3 separate regions of the Homo sapiens genome follow, and regions 1 and 2 are each linked to region 3. The links come from fine-mapping of genetic effects on gene expression. A gene starts in region 3. Each other region holds a variant in brackets. All regions are shown on one strand. Distances are between the middles of the regions.

What was found. PIP is the estimated chance that this variant, and not a neighbour inherited with it, causes the effect.
Region 1: its variant is fine-mapped to the expression of C12orf57 in whole blood (INTERVAL, PIP above 0.99).
Region 2: its variant is fine-mapped to the expression of C12orf57 in whole blood (INTERVAL, PIP above 0.99).

What each region holds. Positions count from the first base shown.
Region 1 is chr12:7,751,745-7,759,918 of GRCh38, forward strand. No RefSeq gene overlaps it. Among named protein-coding and RNA genes, the nearest start is that of CLEC4C, 8.5 kb to the left of the region's middle. The variant C/A (reference allele first, on the strand shown) is at 4,152.
Region 2 is chr12:6,831,531-6,839,704 of GRCh38, forward strand. It overlaps P3H3 (prolyl 3-hydroxylase 3), which reads left to right. Exons shown (of 15, transcript NM_014262.5): 6 at 295-384; 7 at 2,062-2,114; 8 at 2,212-2,279; 9 at 2,395-2,519; 10 at 5,455-5,556; 11 at 5,893-6,043; 12 at 6,202-6,319; 13 at 6,428-6,503; 14 at 7,470-7,610; 15 at 7,767-8,174. The coding sequence ends at 7,931. Among named protein-coding and RNA genes, the nearest start is that of GNB3, 5.3 kb to the right of the region's middle. The variant A/AC (reference allele first, on the strand shown) is at 5,028.
Region 3 is chr12:6,939,399-6,947,572 of GRCh38, forward strand. C12orf57 (chromosome 12 open reading frame 57) reads left to right here and starts at 4,624. Exons shown (of 3, transcript NM_138425.4): 1 at 4,624-4,775; 2 at 5,078-5,254; 3 at 6,373-6,604. The coding sequence starts at 4,724. The coding sequence ends at 6,524. ATN1 (atrophin 1) reads left to right here. Exons shown (of 10, transcript NM_001940.4): 8 at 1,482-1,625; 9 at 1,976-2,156; 10 at 2,349-2,923. The coding sequence ends at 2,382. It overlaps RNU7-1 (RNA, U7 small nuclear 1), which reads left to right and starts at 4,418; the gene lies at 4,418-4,480. It also overlaps a transcript of PTPN6 not described here. RefSeq lists enhancers at 4,432-5,011, 4,511-4,700, 5,001-5,120, 5,012-5,591, 5,131-5,280 and 3 more and silencers at 4,914-5,173, 7,207-7,256.

The sequences.
Region 1 (8,174 bases), 810 kb after region 3:
AGACATAAAGGTTCTCCACGTCCCCGTCAGATCAGTTAGATACAGAGTATCCACATAAAGGTTCTCCAAGGCCCCACCAGAGCAGCTAGATACAGAGTGTCGATTGGTGCATTCACAAACTGAGCTAGACACAGGGTGTTGATTGGTGTGTTTACAAACCTTGAGCTAGATACAGAGTGCCTATTGGTGTATTTACAATCCCTGAGCTAGACATAAAGGTTCTCCACGGCCCCACCAGACTCAGGAGCCCAGCTGGCTTCACCCAGTGGATCACTGCACTGGGGCTGCAGGTGGAGCTGCCTGCCAGTCCGCGCCCTTGCGCCCGCACTCCTCAGCCCTTGGGTGGTCGATGGGACTGGGCGCCTTGGAGCAGGGGGTGGCGCTCATCGGGGAGGCTCGGCCGCACAGGAGCCCATGGCGGGGGAGAGGTGGGAGGCTCAGGCTTGGCGGGCTGCAGGTCCCGAGCCCTGCCCCGCGAGAAGGCAGCTAAGGCCCGGTGAGAAATCAAGTGCAGCGCCGGTGGGCTGGCACTGCTGGGGGACCCAGTACACCCTCTGCAGCCGCTGGCCCGGGTGCTAAGCCCCTCATTGCCCGGGGCCGGCAGGGCCGGCCGGCTGCTCCGAGTGCGGGGCCCGCCAAGCCCACGCCCACCCGGAACTCCAGCTGGCCCGCAAGCGCCGCGCGCAGCCCCGCCTCTCCCTCCACACCTCCCTGCAAGCTGAGGGAGCCGGCTCCGGCCTTGGCCAACCCAGAAAGGGGCTCCCACAGTGCAGCGGTGGGCTGAAGGGCTCCTGAAGTGCCGCCAAAGTGGGAGCCTAGGCAGAGGAGGCGCTGAGAGCGAGCGAGGGCTGTGAGGACTGCCAGCACGCTGTCACCTCTCAATTGCGCCACTGCACTCCTGGGTGACAGAGGGAGACTCTGTCTCAAAAGAAAGAAAGAAACCAATGAGAAAAGCAGTCCTTAGGGTTTAAGATTCTATTTTATAGCTAGCCAGGTGGAGATATTGGGCTTGTGTAAGAGGAAGTTAGTGGTCAGACCACGCAGGGTGAAGTGAGAGTTTAACTTATCCAATAGCAGAAAGAGCCATTAAAGGCACTAAAGCAATGTGGTGAAAGGATCAGATTATATTTTTTTATTTATTTATTTTTTGAGACAGAGTCGACAGAGGAAGACTCCGTCTCAAAAAAATAATAATAAAAAAAAAGTCCAACTTTGAATGTATTGTTTGCAGAGGATGAAGTGGCAAAAGAGACAAAGAAGAATATCCAGAGAAATAGGAAAAGTGAGTGTCTTAGTCCATTCAGGCTATTATTATTTTTTTTCTGAGATGGAGTCTCGTTCTGTCACCCAGGCTGCAGTGCAGTGGCACGATCTTGGCTCACTGCAACCTCCACCTACCGGCTTCAAGTGATTCTTCCGCCTCAGCCTCCCCAGTATCTGGGACTACAGGCGCATGCCTCCACGCCCAGCTAATTTTTGTATCTCTAGTAGAGATGAGGTTTCACCATGTTGGCCAGGCTTGGTCTCGAACTCCTGACCTCAGGTGATCCACCCACTTTGGCCTCCCACAGTGCTGGGATTACAGGCATGAGCCACCAGGCCCGGCCCATTCAGGCTATTATAAGAAAATACTGTAAACTGGGTGGCCAATAGCAGCTGCAATTTATTTCTCACAGTTTTGGAGGCTGGAAAGTTCAAGATCAAGGCACTGGCAGATTTGGTGTCTGGCAAAGGCCCACTTTCTGGTTTATATATGGCTCCTTCTTGCTGTGTCCTCACATGGTGGAAGGGATGAGCCAGCTTTCTGGGGTCTTTTATTATAAGGGCACTAATTTCACTCATTTGGTTGAACCCTCATGACCTAATCACCTTCCAAAGTCCCCACCTCCAATACTATCACCTTGGAGGTTAGGATTTCAACATATGAATTTTGGGGAGACACAAACATTCAGACCATAACACCAAGTGTCAAGAAAGCCAAGGGGGCCGGGCGCGGTGGCTCAGCCTGTAATCCCAGCACTCTGGGAGGCCGAGGCGGGCGGATCATGAGGTCAGGAGATGGAGACCATCGTGGCTAACACAGTGAAACCCCGTCTCTACTAAAAATACAAAAAATCAGCCGGGCGTGGTGGCAGGCGCCTGTGGTCCCAGCTACTCAGGAGGCTGAGGCAGGAGAATGGAGTGAACCCGGAAGATTGCAGGCATGAGCCACCGTGCCTGGTAGTTCTTTATCACTTTTAGCATCTATTTCATTTTAAAAATCTGATTGATTTTTAAAATGCTACTACTAAATTTTGGCTTTCCCTAAAAAGAAGCACCAGGGCTCATGGACAGCATGTATTTTTTAGAATTTTTAAATCAATGAGGAAATGAAAGCCAACCTCAAAAATGAGAAGCAGAAACTTCCAGTTTGGATTGTGGCTTAAATAGCTTGTGGCAGACCAATTGTTTGCTGAGACCAACCAGGAAAGCTGGATCAATACAAAAAAACTATTAGGAAGCATCAGAGAGGCTTCCACAGAACAAGGAATTTCAGGAGCCAAGACCCTAGAGAGAGAGAAAGCTGGACATGGCATCTGCTGGCTCTTCAGCAGTGACTGAAGGACTGAGTGTCTGTGCAGTGTCTGTACAACTGGGAGGCTGGTAACTAAATAATAAAACTTTAGACAAGGACTCCTCTATGAATAATGAAGAGCTGAGAATGGACCTTTTTTTTTTTTTTTTTTTTGGAGTAAGGGTCTCATTCTATTGCCCAGTCTGCAGTGCAGTGGCCCAATCTTGGCTCACTGTAACCTCCACCACCTGAGCTCAAGCCATCCTCCCACCTCAACCTCCCAAGTAGCTGGCACTACAGGCACACACCACCATGCCCAGTTAAGTTTTGCATTTTTGGTAGAGATGGGGTTTCACCAGGTTGCCCAAGGTGGTTTCGAACTCCTAGGTTCAAGCGATCCGCCCACCTTGTCCTCCCAAAGTGCTGAGATTACAGACATGTGGCACTGTGCCTGGCCCAAGAAGAGACTATTAATTCATAAAGAATGAAATCCAGTTTGTTATATATTTATTTATTTATTTATTTATTTATTTAGGACAGAGTCTTCCTCTGTTGCCCAGGTTAGAGTGCGGTGACCTGATCTCAGCTCACTGAAACCTCTGCCTCCCAGGTTCAAGCGATTCTCCTCCATCAGCCTTCTGAGAAGCTGGGACTATAGGTGCGCGCCACCACTCCTGGCCAATTTTAGTATTTTTAGTAGAGACGAGGTTTTACCACGTTGGCCAGGCTGGTCTCAAACTCCTGACCTCAGGTGATCTGCTGGCCTTGGCCTCCCAAAATGCTGGGATTACAGGCGTGAGCCACCATGCCCGGCTATTTTTTTTATTTTTTTATTTTTGAGATGAAGTCTTGTCTGGCTCTGTCACCCAGGCTAGAATGCAGTGGTGCATTTTAACTGATTGCAGCCTCCACCTTCCAGGTTCAAGCAATTCTCGTGCCTCAGCCTCCCAAGTAGCTGGGATTATAGGCATGAGCCACTGCCCAGCTAATTTTTGTATTTTTATTTTTATTTATTTATTTATTTTTTAGACGGAGTTTCACTCTCGTCGCCCAGGCTGGAGTGCAATGGCACGATCTCAGCTCACCACAACCTCCGCCTCCTGGGTTCAAACGATTCTCCTGCCTCAGCCTCCCAAGTAGCTGGGACTACAGGCGTGCGCCACCACACCCAGCTAATTTTTGTATTTTTAGTAGAGACGGGATTTCACCATCTTGGCCAGGCTCCTCTCGAACTCCTGGCCTCATGATCCACCCGCGTCGGCCTCCCAAAGTGCTGGGATTACAGGTGTGAGCCACCGCGCCCGGCCAATTTTTGTATTTTTAGTAGAGACAGAATTTTGCTATGTTGCCTAGATTGGTCTCAAACTCCTGGACTCTAGGTATCCGCCCGCCTCGGCCTTCCAAATGGCCTGTAACTTCCATTACAGGCGTTAGCCACTGAGCCTGGCCTAAAATTTTGAAATTAGTTTTGAACAAACTCAATGCCTGTTTGAATCAAGGTAAAATCTACTTTAACTCCGTCTGCCAAAGCAAAAGCAAAAGCAAAAGCAAAAGTAAATTGTCGGCTGGTCGCAGTGGTTCACACCTGTAATTTCAG[C/A]ACTTTGGGAGGCAGAGGCAGGCAGATCACCTGCGGTCAGGAGTTTGAGACCAGCCTAGCCAACATGGTGAAACCTTGTCTCTACTAAAAATACAAAAATTAGCCAGGTATGGTGGTGTGTGCCTGTAGACTCAGTTGCTCAGGGAGGCTAAGGCAGGAGAATCGTTTGAATCCGGGAGGCAGAGGTTGCAGTGAGCTGAGATCGTGCCACTGCACTCCAGCCTAGGCAACAGCGAGACTCCATATCAAAAAAAAAAAAGTAAATTGTCTCTGGAAAAAAAAGAAGATTGGCCGGGCGTGGTGGCTCACACCTGTAATCCCAGCACTTTGGGAGGCCAAGGCAGGCGGATCACCTGAGGTCAGGAGTTCGAGCCGGAGTATGAGCTTTCATATTAAAAGAAAGTCTGAGTGTGGTGGCTCATCCCTATAAACTCAGCACTTTGGGAGGCTGAGATGGGAGGGTCGCTTGAGGCCAGGAGTTCAAGATCAGCCTGGGCACCAAAGTGAGAGCCCCATCTTTACAAAAAATCTTTTAAAAATAGCAAGGCGAGATCAGGCGTGGTGGCTCACTTTGGGAGGCCGAGGCAGGAGGATCACCTGAGGTCAGGAGTTCAAGGCCAACCTCACCAACATGGCGAAACCCCATCTCTACTAAAAATACAAAAATTAGCCAGGTGTGGTGGTGCATGTCTGTAATCCCAGCTACTCGGGAGACTGAGGCAGGAGAATCACTTGAACCCAGGAGGCAGAGGTTATGGTGAGCCGAAATTTTACCACCGTTGCACTCCAGCCGGGGCAACAAGAGCAAGCCTCCACCTAAAAAAACAAAAAACAAAACAAAACAAAACAAAAAACAGGTGAGATGGCATGCACCTGCAGTCCCAGCTACTGGAGAATCTGGGACGAGAGAATTGCTTGAGCCCAGGAGTTCGAGGCTGTAGTGAGGTATGATGGTGTCACTGCACTCCAGCCTGGGCAATAGAGCAAGACTCCATCTCTAAAACAAATAAACAAAATGAAACAATATTTTCTCTTAACTTTAGAAACATTACATTTTCACCATGGAGAATGTAAATAATACAAAAAGTGAAAAGAAAAAATGAAAAACCACCTGCAATTCAATTACTTAGAAAGAACCATCCTGAACATCTTGTTTTTCCTTTTAGTCTTCTTAGCTGTAAACATGATATAATGTTTATATTACCATATACCTTTTTACAGGCATCAAGAGAGGCATGGAATTAAAAATGAGACTGCCCCAGGCACATGTGTAGGCGTGGAGTCTTGACCTGAGCATTCCATTTGTGGTTGAGACAGAAATGGAAGATTCAGTGCTGCCTCAGCAGGTGAGTCTCAGGGTCTAAAGGAATGCCTTTCAACAGAGGACTTTTATCAAGGAACAATTCGCAATTCCAGCACAGGCATATTTTTTGAAAGCCTATCTCCCTCTCTTCCTTCCTTCCTTCCTTTTTTTTTTTTTTTTTTTTTTTTTGGTTAGTTTCAGACATTAGGTTACTCTCTATGGGAAAGTTTACATCTTTATTGAAAACAATATTTTAAAATTCTTTGATATAAAAATACTGGGAGGCCAGGCGCGGTGGCTCGCACCTGTAATCTTAGCATTTTGGAAGGCCAAGTTGGGCGGATTGCCCGAGGTCAGGAGTTCGAGACCAGCCTGACCAACATGGTGAAACCCCATCCCTACTAAAAATACAAAAATTAGCCGGCATGGTGGCGGGCGCCTGTAATCCCAGCTACTTGGGAGGATGAGACCGGAGAATCGCTTGAACCCGGGAGGTGGAGGTTGCAGTGACCGGAGACCGCACCACTGCACTCCAGCCTGGGCCACAAGAGCAAAACTCTGTCACAAAACAAACAAACAAACAAACAAACAAACTGGGAATGCCTCTCTGCAAAATGGATCTCCAGAAATGTGTATTTCATATTTAGAAACTGCTAGCATCTGGAACACCAGGACATTTTCTCAAGTACATGTGAAAATACATTGTCAGCCGGGCTCGGTGGCTCAAGCCTGTAATCGAGGTGGGCGGATCACGAGGTCAGGAGTTCCAGACCAGCTCGGCCAACATGGTGAAACCCCATCTCTACTAAAAATACAAAAATTAGCCGGGCATGGTGGTGCGTGCCTGTAATCCCAGCTACTCGGGAGGCTGAGGCAGGAGAATGGCTTGAACCAGGAGGCAGAGGTTGCAGTGAGCCAAGATCGCGCCACTGCACTCCAGCCTGGGCGACAAGAGTGAGACTGCGTCTCAAAAAAAAAAAAAAAAAAAAAAAATCAGGCTTTGCTGGGTTTCCCCACTCAGTCTATTACCATTAGGTCGTTCCCTTTTTGTCCAGTCACATTTCTACACAGCTGTCCATTCTTCAGAGAAGCTAAGCATAAAAACAGACACTTTTTTCCTGAGTTTTTCGATCTTCATCTCTGAAGATTCCTTTGTCAAGTAAAACTTGGATTAGATAAATTTGTTATGCTTTTCTCTTGTTAATCTGCCTTTTGTTATTGGAGTGTCCTCCTGACTCTTACTATCAGGAGGAAAGGGATCACACCCTCTCCGCCCCTACACAGACATGCAAATTTTTGAGCCCCGCGTGTGAATTACTGAATCAGAAATTCTGGGGTGGGACCCAGGAACCTCATTTCAACAAGCCTTCCTGGGGATTATTATGCATGCTGAACTCTGAGAGCCACTGGCAGGGAGGGGGAAGGGGAAAGGCGGGTAGAATGCTTTCCAGAGGATATAGGGTTTTGCCATTTCAATAATTCCTATGGTTGTTCCTCTCCAATAGAATAGCTGTAAAGAGCTTCCTAAGAAGAAAAATGTACTAGAAAATCACTGTGCCACCTCCTTTTTGTGTCTACCCTTTAATCAGGTCATTGTTAAGCAGATTTGTCAAATTATTCAAAGCAGGTTTGAATAAATGTGTTGTACAGAGACTTCAGGGGGTTTATTTATCTGCGTTTTGGCAGGATTTCCCCTGTGGCTGGAAAGATTCAGATGCGCCTTCTTTCTTTCTTTCTTTTTTTTAGGCAGTCTCGCTCTGTCACCCAGACTGGAGTGCAGTGGCGCAATCTTGGCTCACTGCAACCTCCGCCTCCCGTGTTCAAGCAATTCTCCTGGCCCAGCCTTCCTAGTAGCTGGGATTACAAGTGCACGCCACAACACACAATGCCCGGCTAATTTTTGTATTTTTCGTAGAGACAGGGTTTCACCATGTTGGCCAGGCTGGTCTCGAACTCCTGACCTCAGGTGTTCTGCCCACCTCGACCTCCCAAAGTGCTGGGATTACAGGCGTGAGCCACCGCGCCCGGCCCCCAGATGCGCCTTCTTTCATCGCTTACCTGTACTGTTGTTCTTTTTCACTTTGGAAATGTAAAACCATCTATTAAGTATAGTTAATAGATGGTTATTATTCTCAAACAGCTAGGTAGATCAGAACAGAAATACCACACATGATTCTCAAATCCTCCAGGACAATCCTTCTCATTTCCCTGGATGACATCTTTCTTACTTTTGAGATTTGTAATCAGACAGGCTTTCTTCCTCTCCTGGCTCTGCCACTTAACTAAGCTGTGATCTACAAGTTACTGCCCTGCTCTAAACTTCAGCTTCGCAGTTGGTTCCATAGCTCAGGGGTTAGAGCACTGGTCTTGTAAACTTCAGCTTCCTCATTTATAAAATGAGGACTTGAATAATTTCTATCTCATAGGATTAGTTTAAGCGTTAGAGAATATTTATTTTTATTTATTTATTTTTTGAGACGGAGTTTCGCTCTTATTGCCCAGGCTGGAGTGCAATGGTGTGATCTCGGCTCACTGCAACCTCCACTTCCCAGGTTCAAGTGATTCTCCTGCCTCCCACTCCTGAGCAGCTGGGATTATAGGCGTGCGCCACCATGCCTAGTATTTTTAGTAGAGATGGGGCTTAGTAGAGATGGGGTTTCACCATGTTCGTCAGGCTGGCCTTGAACTCCTGACCTCAGATGATCTGCCTACCTGGGCCT
Region 2 (8,174 bases), 110 kb before region 3:
GTTCCGATTCCAGCCCTCAGCCCCGTCTCTCTTGCCTTTACTTCACTCCTGCCTGCCACCAGCCCCCAAACTCATGCATACACACACCCACACACTCACACACACTCCCACCCCCTACACCCTTTCCAGTTTAAGTCCAGATGCTCTGAAGCTGCTGAGGGGGAACGTTGAACAGAGGAACCGGGGGGCATGGTGCCAGGTTCAAGGAGCATGGAGCACCCAGGCAGTGCCCTAGAGCCGGCGCTTCCCTGCCTTCCTCCAGCTACCCCTCACTGCTCATCATCTCACCCTCAGGACATCCAGCGCTTCATCCTCCGATCCCTGGGGGAGAAGAGGCAGCTCTACTATGCCATGGAGCACCTGGGGACCAGCTTCAAGGATCCTGTGAGTCACTCCACTTCTGCCCATCTCACCCCTCCGCACTCCCAGGAGGGATGGCACTTTGGTTTGCAACAGAGTTTTCCATTTTTCCACCATGAGGCTTGGAGAAGAGTCTGCCATCCCAGTTTTACAGGGACGGAGACAGTGTGCCTGTAGTTAGGGCGGCTTTGGGGTCACGCAGGCCTAAATGTCAGTCCTCCTCTGCCCCAAACATCTCTGAACTTCAACTTGCCTCTGCCTCAATTTCCTTACCTGTAAGTTGGAATAATCACATCTGTTTCACAGGGCTGTTGAAACCACATCATTTGATAACAAAATATAGAAAGCTCTGTTACTGCTGCTTTTATTTCTCTTCTTGTAGTTATGAGAGGAAACTGCGGGGCGGAGGTTATCTATGGCTAGGACTAGGGCATCAAGCAGGCGTTCTCAGTCTTCCTGGCGCTACTGATATTTTGGATCTGACATTTTGGATAATTCTTTGTTGGGGCAGAGGGCAGGGCCTGTCCTATGCCTTGGAGGGTGTTCAGCAGCTTCCCTGGTCTCTACCCAGTAGAGATCAATAGCACATTGACAGCCCCTGAGTCATGGCAATCAATGTTTCCACACTTTGCCTAATGACCCCTGGGGGCAGAAGTGTCCTGCTTGAGAACGACTGGCTAAATGTGTGAACTCTGAAGCTAGTTTTTTTTATTTTTATTTTTATTTTTGGAGACAGAGTCTCACTCTGTCACCCAGGCTGGAGGGCAATGGTGCGATCTTGGCTCACTGCAACCTCCACCTCCCAGGTTCAAGCGATTCTTCTGCCTCAGCCTCCTGAGTAGCTGGGATTACAGGTGCCCGCCATCTTGCCTGGCTAATTTTTGTATTTTTAGTAGAGATGGGGTTTCACCATGTTGGCCAGGCTGGTCTTGAACTCCTGACTTCAGGTGATCCACCCGCCTCGGACCCCCAAAGATGCTGGGATTACAGGCGTGAGCCACCGGAACCCGGCCTGCAGCTAGTTTAAAACCTAACGCTGCTTTGGGAGGCCGAGGCAGGTGGATCACCAGATCAGGAGTTCAAGACCAGCCTGGCCAACATAGTGAAACCCTGTCTCTACTAAAAATACAAAAAATTAGCTGGGCGTGGTGGCGGGCGCCTATAATCCCAGCTACCTGGGATGCTGAGGCAGGAGAATCGCTTGAACCCAGGAGGCGGAGGTTGCAGTGAGCTGAGATCGCGCCATAGCACTCCAGCCTGGGCGACAGTGTGAGACTCCGTCTCAAAAAAACAAAAAACAAAAAACAACAACAAAAAACAACTAACCCTGTCATTTGTAGCTGTGTGATCTTGAGCATGTTACTTTACTTCTCTGTGTCTCAGGGCTCTCAATTACAAAATGAGCACTTTAATATTCTGTTTCATGAGACTGTTGTGAACTTTAAAGGATAAATTCCATTTCCATGAATAAAGCTCTTAGAATAGCCCCTAGCAGATAGTAAGTGCTATATGAGTTATAGTTGTACTTGTTGTTACAGTTTGATCCACTGCCCAGGGCTCCTGACATTGAGTCCCGGGCTTTTCCTACCTCCGTCTTCCTCTCTGGAAACAGAAGAAACTTAATGAGATATTTCAGCTCTAATGTCAGGGATTCCAGGGGCTGACCTTGGTGGGTGATGATGCTTTTCTGGACTGTCGCAGGACCCCTGGACCCCTGCAGCTCTCATCCCTGAGGCACTTAGAGAAAAGCTCAGGTAGGATATGCCCCATGGTGGGAGGGGCTTGGCCCGAGCTGGGAGGCTGGGTCTGGACTGTCCTGGGCACCCACTGAGCGCATCTCTCACCCCTGAGAGAGGATCAAGAGAAGAGGCCTTGGGACCATGAGCCCGTGAAGCCAAAGCCCTTGACCTACTGGAAGGGTGAGTTCCTGGGAGGGAGAAGGCAGGAGCCTGGAGGGTCTGGGGGCTGCCAGCTACTGCTCTGCCTGCCCTTAGGGGATGCTCAGCCCCCTCTGCTCTGTCTTTTCCCTGGCAGATGTCCTTCTCCTGGAGGGTGTGACCTTGACCCAGGATTCCAGGCAGCTGAATGGGTCGGAGCGGGCGGTGTTGGATGGGCTGCTCACCCCAGCCGAGTGTGGGGTGCTGCTGCAGCTGGCTAAGGTAGGAAGACCTGCAAGCTCATCAGCTCGTTCAAGACTCTTGGATACAATCACCTGTTCCCTTGCTCTTGGCCTGCCCCCTTCATTCTGCCTGTCCTGATTATCCAACCGGGACTGTGCTTACCACTGCCTCTCAGCTGTGGATAAGTTCCGTCTCGTCTTAATTTAGCTGACATAGGTGGATGTTCTTTACAAATGAATTTTGCTAGAAATTGATAGGAAGAACAAAACAAAAAACATGAAGGCATAAAAATGGATGAGTGTGCAGGTAAGGATTGCTTGGTTAGCCAAGAGTTTAGTTACTGGCTTGGCTGATGGCTCAGCAGACACGCAGGCCTTTCTTTCCCTCCTAGTTTAGGTTGAATGACTCATACTCACCAGGTTGAGGCTACCATTTTATGAAGCTTCAACCCTTATCTTAGGTTAGTGCTCATTCAGTAATATACTCACTGAGTAGCTGCTATACACTAGAAACTGCTAGGTTCTAGGGAGAGGAAGATGATTATAGACTCTGCCCTTTGGGAGCTCAAGTGTAGAGGTGGAAACAGACAAGGAAATACATAATATAAGCAGGTGGTAAGTTTGGTAAAAGAAGTATGTTTTTGGGCTGGGTATGGTGGCTCATGCCTGTAATCCCAGCAATTTGGGAGGCCGAGGTGGGTGGATCACCTGAGGCTGGGAGTTCGAGACCAGCCTGACCAACATGGAGAAACCCTGTCTCTAATAAAAATACAAAAAAGTTAGCCAGGCGTGGTGGCACATGCCTGTAATCCCAGGTACTCGGGAGGCTGAGGCAGGAGAAGCGCCTGAACCCGGGAGGCGGAGGTTGTGGTGAGCTGATCTCGTGCCATTGCACTCCAGCGTGGGCAACAAGAGCGAAACTCCATCTCAAAAAAAAAAAAAAAAAGTATGTCAAATAGAAGCACTGAAATGCAGTTATAGAAGGCTTGCTGGAGAGGTGGTATTTGAGCTCAGTCTTAAGGATGAGTTAGTCAGGCGATTGGGGGTGGAATCAGTCTAAGAGGGAGAAGAGCATGGTGCATTCTGGGAACTGCAGTCAAGCACAGGGGTGAGAGCAGGGCCAGCTCCATAGTCATTACCTGTGTGATCTTGGGCAATTTATTTTAACATCTCTGAGCCTAATTTGCTCATCTATAAAATGAGGATAATAATAGTGTTTTTGTCATAGTGTCGTTGTGAGGATTAAATGAGTTAGCACATGATAAAGCTCTTAGAACACAGAATCATCACTGGCTGGGTGTGGTGGCTCATGCCTGTAATCCCAGCACTTTAGGAGGTCAAGGCAGGTGGATCACTTGAGGTCAGGAGTTCAAGACCAGCCTGGCCAACATGGTGAAACCCGGTCTTTACTAAAAATACAAAAAAATTAGTGGGCATTGTGGCAGGTGCCAGTAATCCCAACTACTGGGGAGGCTGAGGCAGGAGAATCGCTTGGACCCAGGAGGCGGAGGTCGCAGTGAGCCGAGATCGCACCATTGCAGTCCAGCCTGGGCAACAAGATCAAAACTCCGCCTCGAAAAATAAATTTTTTTAAATAATTAATTAATTAATTAATTAATTAAAAAAGAACATAGAATCATCAGGGTGTATGTTACCAAGAGACAGTATAGGGAAAGAGGGAGAGAGCCCACACATGAAGGCCGAGGGACAGTGAGTGTCTTCTGTGGCCTCCCAAGGAGTTTGGGCTTTATCTGTGTATGGTAGACAGCTGTTGCAGGATTTTAGGACGGTTGACTTTTGCATTCCTGTAGTACCTGGAATCAGGTGCAGGGTCTGGAGTCACCTGTAGGAGTGGTAGAGCCCTCTAGTGGCAGTCTGTAGAATGCAGTGGGAGAAAGACCCGGAAAAGGGGAGTAATTGACGAATGCCACCGTTGGCTGGCGAGGTGGCTCACACCTGTAATCCCAGCACTTTGGGAGGCTGAGGCAGGCGAATGGCTTGAGCCCAGGAGTTCCAGGCCAGCCTGAGCAACGTGGTAAAACCCCGTCTCTACAAAAATACAAAAAATTAGCTGGGCCTATGCGCCTATATGTTCCCACCTACTTGGGAGGCTGAGGTGGGAGGACCTCTGGAGCCTGGGAGGTGGAGATTGCAGTGAGCTATGATGGCGCCACTGCACTCCAGCCTGGGCGATAGAGCAAGACCCCGTCTCAAAAACAAAAAATGAAAAAAAAAAAAAACCCCAGGTTAGACGGCTTGGGTGACTAGGTGTCTCTCAGAAGTGAGATTTGTATGCAGGCGTAACTAGATAGTGGTGCTTAAACAAATTCAAAAAGTAGACAAAAAACGGGTGTCAGAAAAGCGAATAATTCCAGTGTAGACATCCAGATATTAGGAGACCCCCAGGTAGTGAGAGTGGTCGCGGAGGTGGCTGGGTAGTTGTGACTCAGTATCAAGGAGTGGGGGAGCCACGGAGTCCACAGTTTCTCCGAGAGCATGTCAGGTGGGAAGAGGTCAGAGAGGGATAGCCCGCTGATGCTGTCTCCCT[A/AC]CCGCCAGTCTGGCCTAACTGTGGAACTTCCTCTTAGGGTCCTGTTTCCAGAGGGACTCCTCTATTCTTGGCTCATCGGGGATTAATGATCAAGCCCTTCCTGCCTAGTTCCCAGCTCTGCCCCACTTTTCCAGCTGTCCCTACCCTCTCAGAGGCCCCCTTACTGCTGTAGGAAGCTCTCCCGAGTTCTCTCCACAGTCCCCTTAGTAAGCGGGATTCCAGCCCGTACCAGAGAGGGACAATCGGACAGCCGTGGCGGTGGGCACTCTCTGGGAAAGAGCAGCAGCTCAGGAAGACGAGCCACAACAGAACTGTGGGAGCATCTAGCTTCTTCTGGAGAGCGGGAGGGCCGGAGGGAGGGTCTTGCAGCCCTGCAGACAGTGAGGGGCTGGGGGAGTGACTCCACGGTAAACTCCTTCCTATTTAGGATGCAGCTGGGGCTGGAGCCAGGTCTGGCTATCGTGGTCGCCGCTCCCCTCACACCCCCCATGAACGCTTCGAGGGGCTCACGGTGCTTAAGGCTGCGCAGGTGAGCACAGGAGGCACCCGGGCCCGTCTGATGCCCAGACCTGGAGGAGAGGCTGTGCAGGAAGCCGGGCCCCAGGGCCTGGGCTTTTGTGAAGGAGCTTTCTTGGGACCGAGACTACCTGATAGGACCCAGCGTGGAGAAAAGGGATGTTCTGAGAGCTGGGGCCGGGGTTGTTGTCATGGAGAGAGAAGGAGCAGTTTGGGCTGATGGACAGAGCTGGATGCTGACAGACTCCAAACCCATGGGTGGAGAGCGGCAGAGTTGGGCAGGGGCTAGGGCCGAGACCACCCTCCCCTTGCCTTCCTCCTTTTCTGCCCTGCCTTTCACTGCCTGCAGCTGGCCCGGGCTGGGACAGTGGGCAGTCAGGGTGCTAAGCTGCTTCTGGAGGTGAGCGAGCGGGTGCGGACCTTGACCCAGGCCTACTTCTCCCCGGAACGGCCCCTGCATCTGTCCTTCACCCACCTGGTGTGCCGCAGCGCCATAGAAGGTACGACAGGGACCCCCCACTGCTCTTCTCCAACCTCAGGCCCTGCCCCCAGGACACTGCCCCCAAGAGCCCCGGGGTGGACGTGCACGGCCTGAGCCCACAGGGTGGCAGATGGGCACAGGGGCACAGAGGTACCCCCAGACCCCTTTGTGTCCTAGGAGAGCAAGAGCAGCGCATGGACCTGAGTCACCCAGTGCACGCAGACAACTGCGTCCTGGACCCTGACACGGGAGAGTGCTGGCGGGAGCCCCCAGCCTACACCTATCGGGACTACAGGTGGGCAGCCCCTCTAGTGGTCAGGCAGGTGGGCAGACAAAGGTCATCCCACTGCCGGCCTGGGCCTGGGTTGGGGTCTCACTGCCTCTTGCTTTTTTCCCTCCCCAGCGGACTCCTCTACCTCAACGATGACTTCCAGGGTGGGGACCTGTTCTTCACGGAGCCCAACGCCCTCACTGTCACGGTGCGTGGAGTGGGGGGTGTGACGGTGTGACAAAGGGCCCAGCTGTGGGGTCAGGATTCAAAACAGAAGGCTCCAGAGGCAAATGCAGGGAAATGGCCAGGGCTTTTAACCCTTTCACTTCCCCGCCTCCGCAGCCCTCCCGCTGCTTCCTCCGTAGCAAGGTCTCTAAGTGGCCGAATCAACCCTACCATCAGTATTTGTCTCGCCTCCTAAAGAAGGGTGAATGAAGCACAGCTTGCAGGTGCCTCCAGGACTCCATGGCCCTATTCTAGGGATTTGGGGAACTTGAAATAGTCCTTCCTCTTTGCAGCGAGGTGAGCACAGTGGCTGGCGCACAGATACCAGGGCCGCCTTGACTGGGGCTCGGATTCTGAACCTTTCTGAGGTTTAGTTTCCTAGACTGGGGTGATAATAATAGTACGTATTTTAAAGGGTCATTGTAGGAAGTAATTTAGGTAATGTACCTAAAAGAATGAGGCAGCGCCTGGTAATGATAAGCAATTAATGAATGTTAGGTGGGAAATTTCCGGACACCAGGGGCTAGGATTGGGTAGGAGGAGAGGGGCAGTGATTGTTCATCTGGGTGTGGGGTGTGAAAATGGTTCCAATATCTGTATCCCCTTCTGCATAGAGTCTGGTACTGCATGCACAGCCCCAGATTGCTTCAAGCCCTGGATTCAAAGGGCTGAGTGGGAAAAATCAGGGTACCAGGGGTCAGGAACCAACAGGAGACCATCCGTGGAGACCCCTTTTTCCTTTGGTTCCCAACTCCTCTTGCATTTTTGCTCTGCAAGTTGAAGCTGATTTCTCATTTGCCCCAAGCTAGTCCCTGAATTAAGGAGTAGGAAGTGGTAGCGAGAGAGCTGATCCTCTCTGTGCCCCTGTCCCCATCCTGCTCTAGGGAGTGAGGGCCAAGTTCTCTGAGAGAGCCAATCCCTGGAGCTGAACCTGCCCTCATCCCTCCAGGCTCGGGTGCGTCCTCGCTGTGGGCGCCTTGTGGCCTTCAGCTCCGGTGTCGAGAATCCCCATGGGGTGTGGGCCGTGACTCGGGGACGGCGCTGTGCCCTGGCACTGTGGCACACGTGGGCACCTGAGCACAGGGAGCAGGTAAGGAGCGGGGTAGGAAGGGATGTGGTTCTCCTGGTGCGTGAAGGGTGGGCAAGGAGCCCCCGAGAAGGCTCACAGTCGGTGAGGGTCAGGGGCTGAGCTGACCCAGGGAAGGTGGGTGCAGGGAATGGGCCACACTCTCCTCCCCAACCCCAGGAGTGGATAGAAGCCAAAGAACTGCTGCAGGAGTCACAGGAGGAGGAGGAAGAGGAAGAGGAAGAAATGCCCAGCAAAGACCCTTCCCCAGAGCCCCCTAGCCGCAGGCACCAGAGGGTCCAAGACAAGACTGGAAGGGCACCTCGGGTTCGGGAGGAGCTGTGAGTGGCTGAGCCAGCTCCTTGAGGATGTGGCCACTTGACTTGTGGAAGGCCATCTTGATGCCAGGACACACAGGAAGCCCCTGTGTGACATCAGGAGCAGAACAGCAAGCTCTCTGTCCCTGCACCCCCACCATCTTGGGGACCTACAAGGGCCTGGACTCAGAGGACAGTGCACAGGCTAGCCTGGAGCTCACCAGGCCTGGGGAGCTGGGACGGGGCCCCGCTGCCGGACCTGCAGCCCTGG
Region 3 (8,174 bases):
CATAGTCTAGTATCCTTCCCATGACAGAGGCCCACACGGGAGCTTTTGAAGGACACTTTTCTATTCTCACAGCCCCATTCTCCCAAGCCCTTCACAAACCTGTCTTCTTATTTATTTTTTTGAGACATGGTCTGGCTCTGCCACCCAGGCTGGAGTGTAGTGGCGCAATCACAGCTCACTGCAGCCTCGACTTCCCGGTCTCAAGTGATCCTCCTACCTCAGCCTCTGGAGTAGCTGGGATTACAGGCGTGTGTCACCATACCTGGCTACTTTTTGTATTTTTGGTAGAGACGGGGTTTCGCCATGTTGGCCATGGCTGGTCTCAAATTCCTGAGCTCAAAGCGATCCACCCACCTCGGCCTCCCAAAGTCCTGAGATTACAGGCGTGAGCCACCGTGCCCAACCCACAAACCTATCTTCTGATTTCTCTGGATTCAACTCATTTTTTGCCATTTTCTCCTCTTCTCCCTCTGCGAGGTCTTTCATGTTTTTCCCCATCTCTAGATCTGTAACTTTCTAGAAAGGGCCCTGTAGCTTTGGGTTTGGGTGTCATAGGCGATAATGAGCTTTACTTACTATCCTTTCACCATTTTTTGGTTTTTGAGACGGAGTCTCGCCCTGTCACCAAGCTGGAGTGCAGTGGCGCGATCTCGGCTTACTGCAACCTCCGCCTCTGGGGTTCAAGTGATTCTTCTGCCTCAGCAGGCACTGCCTGCCCGAGTAGCTGGGACTGCAGGCGTGTGCCACCAAGTACAGCTAATTTTTGTATTTTTAGTAGACACGGGGTTTCACCATGTTGGCCAGGATAGTCTTGATCTCTTGACCTTGTGATCCACCCGCCTTGGCCTCCCAAAGTGCTGGAATTACAAGCGTGAGCCACCGCACCCGGCTTCCTTTTTTTCTTTTGCCCAGACTGGAGTGCAGTGGCGCGATCTCGGCTCACTGCAGCTTCCACCTCCCAGGTTCAAGCGATTCTCCTGCCTCAGCCTCCCGAGGAGCTGGGACTATAGGCGTGTGCCACCCTGCCTGGCTAATTTTTTTGTATTTTTTGTAGAAACAGGGTTTCACCATCTTGGCCAGGCTGGTCTTGAACTCCTCACCTCAGGTGAGCTGCCTGCCTCAGCCTCCCAAAGTGCTGAGATTATAGGCTTGAGCCACTGTGCCCGGCCTCTTCTTGTCTTATTTTCTAAACTTCTATCATCTTCCACCTTCTTCACGCAGTCTACCTCTCTCTGTCCTTCCCCTCAGACCCTTCTGATGACTGTAATCTCCTGTCCTGTGTCATCCATATGTCCCTCCTCCAGTAGGGCTCAGCCTGTCCACCCCTGCCAGGCCTCTAGTTCTTCCACTCTGCCTTTGTTCCACTTTGGACCTCCTTGTGTTTGTCTGACTCAGTTCCCAGGCTTGGATCCCTTCACCCAAATGCATGGTTTGCCCCAAACCTGCCTTCTGGTGACACCTTCCTCTTCTCTGCCCTCCAGCCTCTGCCTCGGTGCACCCTCTCATTGACCCCCTGGCCTCAGGGTCTCACCTTACCCGGATCCCCTACCCAGCTGGAACTCTCCCTAACCCCCTGCTTCCTCACCCTCTGCACGAGAACGAAGTTCTTCGTCACCAGCTCTTTGGTAAGGATGGAAGTTGGGGTAGGCAGCTCCAATGAGAAAAGGGCAGAAAGGAGGTATTTGGGTGGGGGGATGGGCCTAGTTGGGCTTGGGGAGGGATGAGGAGGTGCCTAGAGGAGCTGGGCATGGGAATAGGAGAGCTGGAGCTCTGCCCAAGAGAAGCACGAGTTTTAGTGTCAGCCTAAGAGGTTCGAATCCCAATTCCACCCTACCACTGGCAACTTACAGAACTGGGTGTGTTACCTCACTTTTTAGTTCATTACCTTTGTATGTAAAGGAGCTGGCTATCCCCTGGTCCAGAGCAGGTACTTGTTATCCGTTGGTCATATGCCCCTTGCCCTTCCTGCTCACAGCTGCCCCTTACCGGGACCTGCCGGCCTCCCTTTCTGCCCCGATGTCAGCAGCTCATCAGCTGCAGGCCATGCACGCACAGTCAGCTGAGCTGCAGCGCTTGGCGCTGGAACAGCAGCAGTGGCTGCATGCCCATCACCCGCTGCACAGTGTGCCGCTGCCTGCCCAGGAGGACTACTACAGGTACCCTAGGGTGCCCCAGCCCAGGGGACATGGGCTCAGCGAGCCTGGGAGGAGCTGTGGGCATGGTACGGCTGGGCACCGTGCTCCTGGGGGAGGGAACCCCTCCTCTCCCAACCCCTTCGGTAAGAGGGGGCAAGGTCAGAGTTGGTCTCAAGTCTCTTACCTCTCTGCTATGCACTGCCCCTTCCCTAGTCACCTGAAGAAGGAAAGCGACAAGCCACTGTAGAACCTGCGATCAAGAGAGCACCATGGCTCCTACATTGGACCTTGGAGCACCCCCACCCTCCCCCCACCGTGCCCTTGGCCTGCCACCCAGAGCCAAGAGGGTGCTGCTCAGTTGCAGGGCCTCCGCAGCTGGACAGAGAGTGGGGGAGGGAGGGACAGACAGAAGGCCAAGGCCCGATGTGGTGTGCAGAGGTGGGGAGGTGGCGAGGATGGGGACAGAAAGCGCACAGAATCTTGGACCAGGTCTCTCTTCCTTGTCCCCCCTGCTTTTCTCCTCCCCCATGCCCAACCCCTGTGGCCGCCGCCCCTCCCCTGCCCCGTTGGTGTGATTATTTCATCTGTTAGATGTGGCTGTTTTGCGTAGCATCGTGTGCCACCCCTGCCCCTCCCCGATCCCTGTGTGCGCGCCCCCTCTGCAATGTATGCCCCTTGCCCCTTCCCCACACTAATAATTTATATATATAAATATCTATATGACGCTCTTAAAAAAACATCCCAACCAAAACCAACCAAACAAAAACATCCTCACAACTCCCCAGGAACATGGCTGTGACTATTCTTTGCGGGATATGGGGGTGAGGCTGGGTCTCAGTGCAGCGGTGCTTAGAGAGAACTGCAGCCAGGGCCTGGCAGGGAAGCGGGAAGAGACCAGACCTTCTTAAGGAACGGGGTGTGGGGGCTGGGAAGAATTGGAGAGGGGATCCCTGAAGAGCCCAGAGCCTTGACTCAGCTGGAGGCGGTACCATGGGTGCTGGTGCCCCCTCCTGCCCCAAGGCTGGGCAGGACCGCTGCGCGCCAGTGGAGGCCTCGGTCTGGGCTCTGTGGCTTATGCCTGTGAGACGCGGGTGGATTGCTTGAGCCCAGGAGTTGGAAACCAGCTTGGGCAACATAGAGAAACCCCATCTTAAGACAAAATCAGCTGGGGGTTGTGGTGCACTTGTGGTCCCAGCTACTCAGGAGGCTGAGGTGGGAGGATCACTTGGGGGTCGAGGCTACAGTGAGTCATGATCGCACCACTGCACTCTAGCCTGGGTGACAGAGCAAGGCCCTATCTCAAAACAAACAAACAAAAGACACCCCAACCAACCAAACACTAGAGGCCTGGGACAGGCCCACCTCTGACGTGGTCAGTTCTAGGAATCTATTCAGACGGGTCTCACTGCTAGGAGCCACCAGAGTCCTCCGGAACAAGGGCTTCAGAGTCCTGAAACCTTTCCGTGGAATACTTTAAGAAACGGTTATGAGGCCAGGCGCGACGGCTCACGCTGGTAATCCCAGGACTTTGGGAGGCCGAGGCGGGCGGATCACGAGGTCAGGAGTTCCAGACCAGCTTGGCCAACATGGCAAAACCCTGTCTCTACTAAAAACAAAACATTAGCTGGGCATGGTGGCGCGCGCCTGTCGTCCCAGCGACTTGGGAGGTTGAGGCAGGAGAATCGCTTGAACCCGGGAGGTGGAGGTTATGGTGAGCCAAGATCCCCCCCAGCTGCACTCCAGCTTGGCGACAGAGCAAGACTCCGTCTCAAAAACAAAAAACAAAGCCGGTTATGAAGCGGGGGTGGGGTGGGCTAGTTTTAATAGGTCCAGGCGATTAGTACCTGGCATCCTTAACCACCTACAGTTTGAGAAGGGAGTGGGTGATAAAAGCCTGGAAGGGAAGGGAAATCGGGCCGGGCATTAGGCTCCATCGCTCATCAATAGACAAGGCCTTTAGGAAACTGCGACAACGGCTTTTGCTCTGGGCCTTTACTGCCGAATCCAGGTCTCCGGGCTTAACAACAACGAAGGGGCTGTGACTGGCTGCTTTCTCAACCAATCAGCACCGAACTCATTTGCATGGGCTGAGAACAAATGTTCGCGAACTCTAGAAATGAATGACTTAAGTAAGTTCCTTAGAATATTATTTTTCCTACTGAAAGTTACCACATGCGTCGTTGTTTATACAGTAATAGGAACAAGAAAAAAGTCACCTAAGCTCACCCTCATCAATTGTGGAGTTCCTTTATATCCCATCTTCTCTCCAAACACATACGCAGCAGTGTTACAGCTCTTTTAGAATTTGTCTAGTAGGCTTTCTGGCTTTTTACCGGAAAGCCCCTCTTATGATGTTTGTTGCCAATGATAGATTGTTTTCACTGTGCAAAAATTATGGGTAGTTTTGGTGGTCTTGATGCAGTTGTAAGCTTGGGGTATGAAGGTTTGGGCCACGCCTGGGCGCTTCCGGCTGCGCCGGATGCTGTTTCCTTTCCGCTCCCAGGGGCGTTGGGAACGGTTGTAGGACGTGGCTCTTTATTCGTGAGTTTTCCATTTACCTCCGCTGAACCTAGAGCTTCAGACGCCCTATGGCGTCCGCCTCGACCCAACCGGCGGCCTTGAGCGCTGAGCAAGCAAAGGGTGAGAATCGTCCTAGTCAAGGCATAGGCTGCTGGCCTGGGGTAGTCAAGGCATGGGCTGCTGGTCTGGGGAGGATGCGGGCGGAGGATGTGGGGCGACAAACCTGGCTACGTCCGCCGGGAAAATGGGGTAGGGGACGCCGGGTACCGTCCTTCTAAGTGGGGCGCTTGCCCCCAAGACTTGGGATCTTATTGGGTTACCTACAGCCTCAATCCACTAATTCCTTGCGCTCTCCGCTGGGCCCGCTGTCTGTTCTCCGACGCCTACCCGGGACGCCTCCCTGGGATGCTTCTGGCGCGCAGTGGTCCTCGCGGAGGTGATCCAGGCGTTCTCCGCCCCGGAGAATGCAGTGCGCATGGACGAGGCTCGGGATAACGCCTGCAACGACATGGGTAAGATGCTGCAATTCGTGCTGCCCGTGGCCACGCAGATCCAGCAGGAGGTTATCAAAGCCTATGGCTTCAGCTGCGACGGGGAAGGTGGGTCAGACGCGGGAAGGCGGGTCAGACGCGGGAAGGCGGGAGTTGGGTCGGGAGAGGGCGCCGGATCTGTGGGCCCATGAGCGGTTGTCCCCTTTCTCGCCACACGGCGGCAGCCACAATCTGACTAACATTCTTGGCACTCAGAGCCCAGGGTCTACCCTGAGCTTGTGCGTCCGAGTTGCGTTTTGTACAGTAGAGGTTCTGTATCCCTTACCCGAAATGGTTGGGACCGGAAGTGTTTCGGGTTTTTTCAGATTTCGGAATATTTACATATACATGGATATCTTGGGGGATGGGACCTAAATCTGAACACGAAATTGTTTTGTTTCATATACACGCACCTTATGCACATAGCCTGAGGGTAATTTTATATAATAGTCTGAATAATTTTGTGCATGAGACAAAGTTTTGACTGCGTTTTGACTACAGTCTCCCCCACCCCCCACTATGAAGTCAGGTGTGGAATTTTCCATTTTCGGCCTCACACTGGCACTCATAATTTCAGATTTTGGATTTTCTAATTAAGGATGGTCAACCTGTACTGTTAATCACATTATTATTCCATTTTGTGATGAGGAAGCAAACTCTAATGGTGCAGACTCTCGAGTAGCAGAGCTGGACTTAAATGCTGTTGTGCCACCTTTTAGTGACATGTCTGCATGACAGCAGTGGCTGCAGTCTCTCCAGGGTGTTTCAGCTAATTTTTGTTTGGGGGGGGTTGGTGGTTAAATTTTTGGTGAGATCCTGGTGTTCCCCAAAGGTGTTGACTGATTCAGCTCTGCTGCCTCATAGCCTTCCTGAGTTCCAGCTACAGACCTGGGGTCTCGTGTTCATTCTTGGGGTTCCAGTGACTAAACTGCTAAAATGGTTCACCTGAGAGCAAGAAGCACACTGCCTTGGGACATTTTCATTCACTGCATCCCATCTAGTTGTGCCCAGTGTAGACCAAATGTCATCATCCAAACCACACGGGACAGAGGCCTGCATGCGTCCTGTTTGGCAAACAGCTGCCCAGCCAGTGGGGGAGCAGTTCATGCTTAGACTACCACCCCCTCCAGGTGTCTTAGGCACGCTGGTCCTTAGGAGAAGGGTTGACCTTCCACTCCCTCTTGCAGGTGTCCTTAAGTTTGCTCGCTTGGTCAAGTCCTACGAAGCCCAGGATCCTGAGATCGCCAGCCTGTCAGGCAAGCTGAAGGCGCTGTTTCTGCCGCCCATGACCCTGCCACCCCATGGGCCTGCTGCTGGTGGCAGCGTGGCCGCCTCCTGAGAGTTGGCCCTCCCTTGTGCCACTGCCAGGGGAGGAAAGGCCTTGATGTTCCAGACAATAATAAATGCGCCTGTGACTTAGCCTTGGTGTCAGTCTCTTGCGGACCTGACAACCCCCATCTCTCCTTCCCTGATTCCCTCTGCCTTTCCAGGCCCCATCCCCCTGAACAGCTCCTCCCTATGGTCCTGGCTGGGCCTAACCCTGCCCCAGGGCCTAACCCTACCTGAGGCTCCTCCCCTTCCCCCGGGGCAGGTTGAGAGGCTGGAGTGGGTCCCTCAGCGCCCTGGGTGGGTGGGCCTGCACAGGGGGTACCTCCTTCTCTGAGGAACTGGGCTGTTAGGGATTTTCCTTAGGCCCTTTGGTTTCCGCCTACGGAGAGGTTTCCCCCATTGGTTGCTCTTCCTCAGCCAGGGTTACTTCCTGGTCTGTTCCCCTACCCAATACCCCGCCGCTCTGTCAGCTTGAGCTCCAGGTGGAGCTCCAGGTGGCTCCTCCTCTCCCGGGGGAAGGCGGCCCTGGACCAGCAGGCGGGCCTGCTGTACTCCCGCTTTGGGGCTGCAGGGAAGCTGGCCGCTGTGGGCGGTCTCGGGCCAGCCCCGCCCCACCTGTCCTTTTCCTGGAGACTATTAGTCCAGGGTTTGTCCCTGCAGTGCCATTGGCCTGGCAGGCAGGATCGAGGAGGAAGTGGCTGATTACTGAGCGGTTCTTCCTCACCTGGCTTGGGCCACTGTGCACAGCTGTGCCGCTGGCTCAGCCCCGCCCCCTGCGGCCCTCTGCCGTGGCTTCCCCCTCCCTACAGAGAGATGCTGTCCCGTGGGTAAGTCCCGGGCACCATCGGGGTCCCAGTCTCCTGTTAGTTTTGGAGGGAGGGAGGGCTTTGTTGATGCTCACTCCGACGTGTGTGAACGTGAGTGCGATCTGCCGCTGCCCTGCGCCTGTTTCCGGTCCCTATGAACTTCCCCTTCCCGCAAGGTGTGAGGACCCCCGGCTCACTCATGCTCCTCTGCCCCCTCTTTAACATTTTCCCCTGGACAAGTGTGTATCTGTTCTCTCCATTGCATTTCTACTTCCAGCCTCTGGGCTCCTGCTTCTGCCTCCTGCTTAGGACCTGTCCCCCTGGGTAGCTCACAACACCTCAAACATAGCAGTCAGAGGCCACCCGCGAAGGCCCTCCCACGTCCAGCCAACTTCTCCGCACTTCCCAACATCAGACTTTGGTCCCATCTTCTTTGTTTCCTTTCACTTCCCTTTCCCCTGCATCATTCATTCAACAGGTACGTGTTGAGCATCTATTATGCACCAGGTGCTGTTTAAGATGCTGGTAATACTGGAGTGAACAAGACAGACATGGTCTCTGCTCTCACGGAGCTTACATTCCAGTGGGAGGTTACAGACCGAACAAATAACCCAATAAATTGGATCATTGCAGATTCTCAGAAGTATTACGCAGAAAATAGACAGCCTTGGCCGGGTGTAGTGGTTCACACCTGTGATCCCAGCACTGTGGGAGGCTGAGGCGAGAGGATTGCTTGAGCCCAGGAGTTTGAGACCAGCCTGGCCAATATAGTGAGACCCTGTCTCTACAAAAAATAAGAAATTAGCTGGGTGTGGTGGCACACGTCCTGTGGTTCCAGCTATGGAGAGGCTAAG